3 linked regions of the Homo sapiens genome follow. The protein of the gene in region 3 purifies or fractionates together with the protein of the main gene of each other region. This does not show direct contact. Each region holds a gene or a part of one and is shown on either strand. Other genes may lie near its edges.

The links.
Region 1: the proteins of CCDC82 (region 3) and TOMM34 purify together in Homo sapiens (affinity purification with mass spectrometry; 2 studies listed by BioGRID and IntAct, with this or other methods). This does not show direct contact.
Region 2: the proteins of CCDC82 (region 3) and ALB purify together in Homo sapiens (affinity purification with mass spectrometry; 2 studies listed by BioGRID and IntAct, with this or other methods). This does not show direct contact.

The regions. Positions count from the first base shown.
Region 1 is NC_000020.11:44,946,729-44,950,484, forward strand, and holds part of TOMM34 (mitochondrial import receptor subunit TOM34), read right to left. Parts: intron 2,150-3,756; coding exon 2,002-2,149; intron 1-2,001. UniProt on the Homo sapiens protein: Plays a role in the import of cytosolically synthesized preproteins into mitochondria. Binds the mature portion of precursor proteins. Interacts with cellular components, and possesses weak ATPase activity.
Region 2 is NC_000004.12:73,407,132-73,410,887, reverse strand, and holds part of ALB (albumin preproprotein), read right to left. Parts: intron 2,295-3,756; coding exon 2,083-2,294; intron 1,534-2,082; coding exon 1,401-1,533; intron 577-1,400; coding exon 479-576; intron 1-478. UniProt on the Homo sapiens protein: Binds water, Ca(2+), Na(+), K(+), fatty acids, hormones, bilirubin and drugs. Its main function is the regulation of the colloidal osmotic pressure of blood. Major zinc transporter in plasma, typically binds about 80% of all plasma zinc.
Region 3 is NC_000011.10:96,383,159-96,386,914, forward strand, and holds part of CCDC82 (coiled-coil domain-containing protein 82), read right to left. Parts: exon of another isoform or gene 3,136-3,756; 5' UTR 3,096-3,135; exon of another isoform or gene 2,779-3,095; intron 1,604-2,778; 5' UTR 1,590-1,603; coding exon 804-1,589; intron 316-803; coding exon 111-315; coding exon of another isoform or gene 67-110; exon of another isoform or gene 1-66.

The sequences.
Region 1 (3,756 bases), on a different chromosome or scaffold from region 3:
GCATTAGACTATGTCCAAGACGTTCCAGGACATGATAAAATGTTAGCCACAATGGCTGAAAGTTGTTTTGTCATTAGTCCTCTAGATTAAATTATAAATCCAATGCAATCACAACCAAAAGCTGTCCAACAAGACATTTTTTGGAATTTGCCAAAATGATCCGAAGCTTTAGCTAGAAGAACAAACATGGGAAAATACTAGGAATGCTCTGATTAAGAAGAATGAAGAAAAGACCAGCCCTATAAGATATTATAAAGCAAAAGCAATTAAAACAGTGTGGCACAGACACCTGCATGAAGAACAGTATCTAAACAAGACAAAACACAGCTCCAAATATGGTAATGATCCAGAAAAATGAGTTAATGGAGGTGTCCAGCAGCATAAGGTAAGCAATGTGAAAGAGGGTCCAGAGATAGAGGAGTTAGAAGATGCCACACAAATATGGAACAAATAGGCTGCAGGCTTCTTTTTCAAATTAGCCTGGCAAATTGTGGCCCCTCTGGTCCAATCAGCAATAAAACCACATAAAACCACAGGTGCAAAATTCCAAAATATAAGCTTTAAAACTACAAGTTCTCTTTCCAACTCATTGGGCAGCAAAACCTGATCTGAACTGACATGAAGCTATTTAGTTTCTCTATTCCACCCCATGTGAACATGGAATTTTCAAGTTTCACTGGCAGAAATACTAATAATTAACTTCTGCAAGCTGCCCCAGACACTGCTGGGGTGTTACATAATTCAGACCATATTACCTCACTAAAATGGAAAACACTTCTTTTTTTTTTGTGACAGAGTCTCGCTCTGTCACCCAGGCTGGAGTGCAGTGGCACAATCTTGGCTCACTGTAACCTCTGCCTCCTGGGTTCAAGTGATTCTCCTGCCTCAGCCTCCTGAGTAGCTGAGATCACAGGCATGTGCCACAGCGCCCAGCTGATTTTTTGTATTTTTAGTAGAGATGGGGTTTTGCCGTGTTGGCCAGGCTGGTCTCAAACTCCTGACCTCAAGTGATCCTCCCGGAGCCTCAGCCTCCCAAAGTGTTGGGATTACAGGCATTGAGCCACCGTGGCTGGAAAACACATTTTATCTCAAGAGTTTGGAATAAGGAACAATGTGTCTATATTAGATCCAAGATTTTTGAACTAGAGAGTGATATGTGTATGCTGGTAGGGAAGGATAAACAGATTTCTAACATTTTATAATGTTTTATACTAAGCATTTGGTTTTGATATGGTCTCTTGCTGAATGTTTCAAGCTTCTGAGAGTAAAAGTAACAGGAAGATCTTGTTGAAGTCAGATTCCAATTCTTGTGCCAACATTTACTGGCTGGCTGAGTTTAAAGCAAAACCCTTCCTTCTCTGAGCCTCAATTTTCTAAACACTAAAACAGAAAGACCACCTATACGAGCATTGTTGGAGAACAATCACTCCTACACAGTGAAGGGACCGCACCCTGGCTCCCAGGTTCTCAGTCAGTGGTCACTGACGGCAGCTCCTGGTGCAGGACTTTCTACAGGCCCACAAGTCTAACCTTTCAGGCTAGACTGTACCCATCCTTCCTGCTCTCATGCCAGGCAATGGTTACTTCACATTTTGGCTTCTGGGCCAGTACTCTCAGACAGAAATGGTGCCAGAATTTCTAACAGGAGGGTCTTGGAGAAGGGTAGGGAGCAGCGTAGCGTGGTGGGGTGGACAGGCTAAGAGACTTGTGTTAGGGTTGTGTTTGCAGAGCAGGCACACTGCTTTTAGTTACATTGCATGCTTATGAAAATTCTGGGGACAGGGGCCAACAAAGCCCAGGCTACCATTTGGCATCCCTCAGTTTCTACCCTTTTGAGAGAATGAATGCCACTGGTCATGGCTAGCTCACAACGTGGATGCATGTTTTCAGCCATAACATACTTGACTAAATGCTAGGGATGAAGGGCCCATTGCAGTCCAAGAGAAGACTATGGAACAAATGTCCTGAAATGCCCCAGGCCAGCAGCTGTATAGGAGATACCTGTTGCTGTACGTGGCAGATTCCAGGTTACTACACAAGAGGCTTTCACTGTACTTCTCAATAGCTTTCTTATGGTTTCCCTTCTTTACAAGCTCATTGCCTTCTTCCTTCAGAACTCTGGCTTTCTCCACATCCCCAGCAGAAGGCACTAGATACAAATTCAGAAGAGGAAAAAAACCATGGAGCAGCACCCAACTGAGATCAGTGAGGTCTCTTCAGCATCGTCCCTTCCAAACTGACTACAATCCTCTCTCCCAGAGATTTCCTCCCCTGCTGTAAATCATCCTTCCTGATTAATGACTTCCCCCAATTAATAGCTTCTGGGCAATTCAACAGTTTTTCATCAAGAAGTTGGGGAATCCTGATATAAAAACATTTTTGCATGCACATAAAAATATATAAATGATAAAAAGCAACCCAGGTTCTAGCCTTGGCACTGCCTCTTGGTAGCTGGAAGATCTTGTGTGACCTACCTAACTTTTGGACCTCAATTTCCTCACCAATAAAATAGGGCAATACTAATTCCACAGATGGCTATTTTCAGGGTCAAATCTGAGAGTATGTAAGAAAGTACGGAACACACTATAAACTTAAAGCAGGACAATAAGTAAATAAATACTAATAAACAAATATCTGGTAAAGAAAAGGTATAGCTTCTGGGCTATGAGAAAAGGGGAGAAGAGCCTGCTATTCCTCATTTCTGGTTTGGGCTGAGCCTGTGAGTATCCTCCCTCATCTAACACATGCAGCTCTGCTCCAGCCTTCAAGGAGAGGAAGCAGAGGGAACATGGTGAAATCCAAGCTGCTCAACTTGGTGTTCAGGCCCTTCACTGCTTGGCCCCAATTAATTATTCCAGCCTCAGCTCCATATCATCTGCTTTTCAAAAATTTTTAAAACTATCTTTATAAAATACTAAATATTTATGACCAGGGTAAGATTATAGGTTTACACCCTGAATTCATTGCCTGGTTTAAGAAAAAGAACATAACTAGGACCTTTGAAGTCCTGGGGGACCTTCCTCAATTCAATCCACTGCTGGAGGAAACTATTATCCCCAATTCTGTGCTTCTTCCCCACCTTTTTAAACAGTATAACTATATACAACAGTACCCACAGATCATTTGCTGTTTACTTTGTTTTTGAACTTCATACAGAAGAATAAGTCTGTGTATTCTTTTATGACTTGGTTTTTCTTTTTCCCCTTAATGTTATATTTCTGAGATTCATCTGTGTTGATGCACAGACCTGCAGCTCCTTCATTTTCATTGCTGCAATACCAAAGCTGAATTGTCCATTCTCCCATTTATGGAGATCTGGGTTATCTCCAGTTGTTTTTTGCTATTACAGTCTTCTACGAACATTTGTGGGTACATCTCCCTGTGCACATGCACACAGGTTTCTCTTGAAGTAGGGCTTCAGCTTCACTGGCACCCTGCAACACACCACTCTGCAGTCATCCTTATTCCTACTGTTCCCCCCATGCACTTTCATTCTCCAACTCTCTCCACTGTCTCTGCCAAGGATTCTCCTTCCTTCCCACCTGATGACCTTCTTCAAGGTCCAGCTCAAGGCTCCACCTCCATTGCCACCCCTTCTGAGTCTTTCCCCGACTCCCTCATGCACTTAAGTCAGTTTCTATCCTGAAGTCCTCAAACACTAAGACTCTAAAGCACATGTTCCTCCTCCTTGTGTTTTAAGACACTGTTTACATGTCTCAGTCCCTCAACTGAGGGAGAGTTCCCTGAGGGCCAAGA
Region 2 (3,756 bases), on a different chromosome or scaffold from region 3:
TAGATCATTGGGGGGAAGATAAAATTAAATAAAGGGATTATATATGTTGTATACTTATATCAAAATATCTCATATACCCCGTAAATATGTATACCTACTCTGTATCCACAAAAATTAAAAATAACTTTAAAAAATTAAATAAAGAACCATGCCTACAGCTCTATAAAAATAATGAACCATTAGAATAAGAGTCCAAGATTTTATAAATAAATAGAACTTAAATATCTGTCCCTTTTTTTAGGACAAAAAGGACAGCGTCCTCTAAATTATTCAACTATTTAGAAAAGAAAAGATTAAAAATAATGTCAAATTGTCATTGATATTCTGATTTTTACCTCTATTAGAGTTCTACCTGTTAGACAACCAAAGAAATGTATTTGACAGCACTTTGCAAAATACATAAAAATGTACAATTTGTCACTGAAGCATTATCATTTACATCGTTATAAAGATGCCAACTATGTTTAAAAGTATTTACCATGCTTTGAAAGCTCTTTCTCCAAATTTTTGGAGACTGGCACACTTGAGTCTCTGTTTGGCAGACGAAGCCTTCCCTTCATCCCGAAGTTCATCGAGCTACAAAAAGGAATAATTTGATGAAAATTAGAAGAAAAATTCTACATGAAACACCCCTCCATAAGCTCAGATGAGACTGTGCCAAATTAAATTTTGAAGGCATAATTTATGCCTAAATTCCCAAGTACTCCCTTTAGCGAATAATGATTTTGCTCTCTAAGAAAAGGAAAGATCATTCGATCATTCTGGTCACAGCGGAATTCCCTATGTAGTTAGAAACCAACTGGAAACATTGCCAGGAAAAAGAGCCTTAAAAGTGGGAGAAAAGTCAGAGAAAGAGTACGCTAATATCCCAGGGGCTGCAATTTTGCTAATTTTTAAATTTTGTGTATAATTCATTTCAGTCTCTCCTCCACCAACATCAGTAAACTCCTCAGAAAAGAAAATAAAGCATTCCATAATATATATTTATGGAATGAATGCATGAACTCAGGCATCTAGATGCAGTAAAATTCTCTACTTTGAATTCCCTCCCTACTAAAAATTATCATGAAAAGATAAACAAGAACTGTGGCCCCTTGCTGTGCAATTTGACAAACAAGTTTCAGTATTTCACTATAGTGATCACCACCATAAAAAGTGGTGAAATCTTTAAACACATGCACAGTGATTACCTCTGACAGATCATCATTGGCAAATCTTAAAAGAAGAAACGAGAGTGTAGGCCTTCAAAGATGAAAGATTTTCAAGACAGATAAAAGGAAGGCTTTTTTGACCATGTCGGAAAGTTTGTATCAGACACTCAGGTTCCCTAAATCTAGCCACAAAATGGACAAAATCAGGTTGGATAATGAACTCTTTTTTTCTATTCTTTTGCATAATACCTTTGGCAACAGGCAGGCAGCTTTATCAGCAGCTTGGCAACATTCTGTAAAAGCAGCTTTATACCTTTTAGCAAAGAAAAGGAGTTCCGGGGCATAAAAGTAAGGATGTCTTCTGGCAATTTCATATAAGTATCTAAATTTTGAAAAAGAAAAACAGTCACTTTTCTATAGCAGACAATATTACAGAAATAATTGTAATCGACATTCTCCCCAGAACCTCCAAATTCCAAAGATATCTAATTAACCAATTAAGCTCAATTTGCACATGATGGTCTTGTCTCTGTCATTCTTTAAGTATGTGGAAAAAAGGGTTAAGTGTGTGTGTGTGTGTGTGTGTGTGCATAAATGGTTAAATTTTGGCAATATAATGTTGCTGACTAAAACGAAATCAATTATAACAACCATATATACATATCTTCGTAATACATTAAATAATTTGTCTATCTTAAATTTTTCAGAAAGATTGTATCCTGTTTCAATAAACTTCAAAATATCTTTGATCATATTTTTTGCTGTGTAGAATTTTGTGGTATCAAATACTACTTCTTTAAAAAATCATCATAACAAAACTTCCAAGTCTTAATGTTGAAAATATTTTTGTTATGGTAATTTTTATAGAGTGTTGGCCTATGGAGTTACTCCATGCTTTTTAATTTTGAACTATAAACATCTGATTACTTACTTTTTCAAAAATGTCTCTTCATTGTCATGAAAAGCAGTGCACATCACATCAACCTCTGGTCTCACCAATCGGGGGAGGTTTGGGTTGTCATCTTTGTGTTGCAAGAAGCATTCATTTCTCTCAGGTTCTTGTTTTGCACAGCAGTCAGCCATTTCACCATAGGTTTCACGAAGAGTTGCAACTGTGCATAATTTGTCTCCAAAAAGGGTATGCTAAATGGAAGAAAGCAGGTTTCAGTTGCTGGACAGTACCTTTTTTCTTTATAGCCAAAGAACAGTACAAAGGATTTAATATACTGGTTAAGCTTGGTCAGGAAATCATTTAAAAATCCGCTTCCCCTCCCAATCGAGGTTTACAGTTTCTGATGATTTAACCATCTCTATATAATTTTCATAAGAATTAACTGTCACACTATAACTCATGGTGAATAAAACAGGACAAAAAGACAGTCAATAGCTTTAAGGAAAGTTATATGACTCCTATTTTGAAACTTAAAACTAAAGGGTAAGAGCAATCATTATAACAGAAATCAAGAGAAAATAAGCTTCTAAGCAGCAGGTGAATTCACCTAGGGGAGAAAAACATTCAGAGAGTTTCTCATTTCATTTGCCCCCTTTTTAGAGGGCCATGTTTTAGTATATGCCATTGAAAACTGAGGAGTAACACAATCCATCATATATTAAGTGACTATTAAGATATAGACATTTTTCTTCCAGAAATGTTACCTAAAATCACTTTCCAATAAATGAGTCCTTTCCTTATCTCTAATTTTTATTATGAAAGTAACTGTAACCCCAGGGAAAATATACTACTCTAGACAGAATTTATTAATTTTTATGTATTTTTAAGATTTCATATGTAGAGCCATAGTATTGTGTAAAGTTAAAGTCCTGACTCTGCTGTGAGGGAGAGGTACATAATAAAAAGGGGAAAGGCTCCAGTGATAAAAACTGGCCTTGCCCACAAGAGGTATATATAGATTGAGTGGTGAGAGAAAGATAAACCTGTCCTTGTTTTGAAGATTGATCTGGAAATACTAAAAGTTTAAAGTTCTTCAACATGACTAAGTACTCTGCTTTTTTATTGTATGTAGAAATACAAAGATATCTAAAATGAGGAATATATAGCTGTACTATTATTCCACCCAGGTAACAAAATTAGCATAGAAATCAGTGGGTGTTTTCTGATGATAAAAACCATGATATCATCTCTAAGAGATAGTAGCTCTCCTGTGTTCATTGCAACACTATTCATGATAGTCAAGATGTAGAAAACCAACCTAAATGTCTATCAATCAACAAATTAATGGATAAAGAAAATGTGGTACACACATGCACTGGAATATTATTCAGCCTTGAAAAGAAGGAAATTCTGCAATAGGCAACAACATGGTTGGACTTTGAATGCACTATGCTAAGGGAAATAAGTCAGTCATAAAAAGATAAACAGTACATAATACCACTTATATAAGGTAGCTAAAGTAGTCAAACTCATAGAATCAAAGAGTATAATGCTGGTTGCCAGTGGCTGGGGGAGGACGAAACGAGGGGTTACTAATCAATGGGCACAAAGTTTTAATACAGCAAGATGAGTAAGCTATACAACAGTGTACCCGTAGTTAACAATAATGGATTGTACACTTAAAAATATAACAGGGTAGATCTCATGTTAAGG
Region 3 (3,756 bases):
ACCACAGTTTCTAGTCAATGATTTAGAACATGATATTAAAAGGCTAATTTGATACTTGATAAAATATCATGAGAACAATTCATGAAACATTTTCTTAATATTGAACTTACAAAGAGAATTCTGTTTTACTAATTTCAGTTGTGATGTAGTCAATTTTTCTCCTTGTTGGTTTTTATTCTCTTCATCACCCTCCTCATCTTGCACTACAAAGTCATCGATAATATAATCATCTCCATCTTCATCAGATTCATAATTATCCTCTTCTTCCTCCTCATCAACTTCATCACTGCTTGGGCAAGATTCCTTTTCAGAGTCCTAATTAAATTAAAATAAATGCTTCAGTAAATGGTGCTATTAAAACGGTAAGCATCGATATAAAATTAAAACATTAAATCTGACAGCAAAAAAATGATCCATAGTAATTAACTTCATATTTTAAAGTTAAAAATAAATAATTTTGTCATATTAAATGCTGAACTTTTGAAATTATTAAGAAGAATATACCTTGGTTAAGTGATGTAAAATGTTTAAAATGGACATTAGAATTATAAGAAGTTAAAAACAAGAAAGATCATATAAAATAACAAATAGTCTTTCAATTTTAAAAAAGGATGGACTGAGGCTCATGATAAAACAGTATATTACGTACAATAGTGTAATCAAACATGTTCAAGAATACTTGATTAAAAAATAAATTCTAGAATTATTGAGAAATGGAACGGACTCAGCACTTTTTTATAAAAATTAAATACTTTAAGAAAAAAACTGAAAAACAATAACAAATCCAACAAAATATAACACACCTCAAAATCTCTACCACTACTGCGTCTCTGACGAGATCTTTGTTTTGAGAGTTCTTTGAGCTTCTGAAGTTTTTCTCGCTTTTGTGCAGCTAATGTTTTTTCAGGAGTCTTTTGCTCCATTTCCACTGAAGAACCTTCATCTTCAACCACTCTACGGGGACGTTTAACACCTACTTTTCTAACTAGGATATCGCTGTCATCACTCTCATCACTGTCACACATCACAGAGGATAGCCTTTTTCTTTTTCCTCGCTTGATGTCTTCTTCTTCTAAATCATCCTCTATTATTTGTCCAGTTTGTTTGTTGAGATCATTATCCTCTTGACTTAAATGTTTTTCCTGATCATCCTCTATTATTTGTCCAGTTTGTTTGTTGAGATCATTATCCTCTTGACTTAAATGTTTTTCCTGATCTTGTAAGTCAATATTCCTATGTTTGATTTTGTTCGTTTCTTCTTCATATGTTGAACCGTTGCCAGAGTTAATGAGACACTTACTGTCATTTCCTTCACTTTGAATTTTACTTAAGTTGAGCTCTCTTTCACTTCCTGGTGTTTTATTACAATCAGGTCCCTTGTTACTATCAAGCTCTTCATCATTTTCAAAACTTTCATCACTATCAAGCTCTTCATCACTATCAAATTCTTCACTATCAAGCTCTTCATCACTATCAAGTAATTGTGAGATACTACTTCTTTTAGTTCGCCTCCAATCAACTCGAGATTTCTGCTCAGGCACGTGACTCTTAGAATTTCTCCTTGTTTCATGTCTTCTAACATGTATCATTTTCACTTAAGCTTCTATAAAATAAAGTTGTTAGGAATATAACAGTGATAACCAGATTAGAGCAATGAATGCATTTATGGTATAAATTATATTTATTTGGCTTTATTTAATGGTCCACAAACACAAAATCACATGAAATATCTGAGTGAAGATGGTAGAACATTAATTTAACAAATAATTTACTGAATGCCCATGAAATAATTATATGAACATCTACTCTGAATTACGTTGTATGTTGTGCTGCAAGGGATACATAGAAAAATCATGGTGCTGTCCTTCAGAAGATTATTATCTATATGTAGAACTAAAATATCTAAAACATATAATAATTAAGAAAATTTCAAGGTAATATTTAGTATCAAATGAATAACATAAATAACTGCAAGAGAAGTGGAAAGATGCAGGGAGATCAGTAAGGCAAGTGCTTCACTTTATCTTGAACAGATGTGATCTAATAGCATTCTGAAGGATTCATTGTATTTGAACAGAAAGAACGAAAGAAAAAGGGATGTCAGGCAAGTAATATGGTAAGGGCAAACTCTGGCTTTAAGAAAGAAGATGGTATGTTCAGTAAATAAGCATGGCTTAAAATGTATAAAAAAGAGTTTTATGCTGGAAAAAAGGAGAAAAGAATAGAAAACTGAATGGGATTACCAGGATGACTCACCCTGTAGGCAAAGGATTCTGAATAGAGAAATGATATAAAGTATAAAAGATCAATTTACACGAAGAAAGTTATAAAGTAACAAATGACATAAAGAAGACAGCAGTGAAAAATTGAGAGATAATATATCCACTAAGATTGTAGCCTCTTTATACCTTAGTAAAATGGGAGTGGCTTTCCCCTCAAAGTTAAATACACAATATAACCAATAGAAAACTTAACTAACAATCCAATAATGTAGTTAAGTGAATAAAACAAGTAAGTTCCACGGCAAAGCAGAGCATAGTATTGGGAAGGAAAACAAAAGCTGTCAGTTTATCATTTAGAAAAGAATGAATTCCATTAAAATTATCACAAGTATATATTAAAAGAACAATTAGTGACACGTAAGATAACTAGAAAAAATAACATATGTAGTTCTGTGGTTGTTAGGGAATAGAAATATGACAATGTAATGAGACCGACCTCAAACTACATGTTAGAGGTATATATTGAACTGACAGCTATCCCCACCAAAGAAATCACCTTATGAGGCTGATTATTCCAATATTTCCACCACAGCACAGAATATTCCTGGAGTCTTTCTATAAACCACACACTATAAAAAATCTAAAAATATGAAAATAATCACACTTCATTTTTTATCCCAAACAGTGACTTTAACACCCACTTCATTCACTTGTCTCGGTTATAAGGACCTGTTAGCAGCTTGCAGAAATGAAATCCAACTTAAGAAGATGAGAATTAACTACCATTAAAAATCTTCAAAAAATGTGCTGCGAATTCTGAAGGTAATTACAAAAATTCAATGCCAAAAATTTTTTGAGCAATGGGAATCTTACCGGACTATGTTTCCAGCTTTCCAAGAGGATTACTTTTTTCCTATAGATTGTGGAAGAGAGGATACAGCTCATTTAATTGTACAAATTCTGGTATGTTTATACGGCAATAAGACTTTCTGTATAATGGTTAACACCTCATGTAAAATCAGAACGGGGGCTGCCAAAATTATACAGCAGAAATTATAGCGTGTAGGATGAAATATAACTTTTATTTTTTTAAGAGATAGGTCTTGTCCTGTTGTCCAGGCTGGAGTGCAGTGGCATGATCATAGATTACTACAGCCTTGAACTCCTGGGGCTCAAGCGATATGTTTCGATTTTTAAATTTTTTGTAGAGATGGAGGTCTCACTATGTCCTGATCTCCTGACCTCAAGTGATCCTCCCACCTTGGCCTCAGTGCTGGGATTACAGGCATGAGCCATTGCCCAAAGTATAACCTTATGTCAGTAATTGCTATAAAATATAATCAGCATTGTAATAGCAATCTAACAAATTCTGGTCAACAGGGCAGTCTGCTATTTGAAATTACCCTTGGGTTGCATCTTACAAAAGGCTTATATTAAAATCAGCAAAGATGAAAATTGTGTGTAGTCAAAATTACCCTTTAAAAAAATCTCTATATTAAAGTATGGTTTTGTGTACACTATACTGCGTTACAAT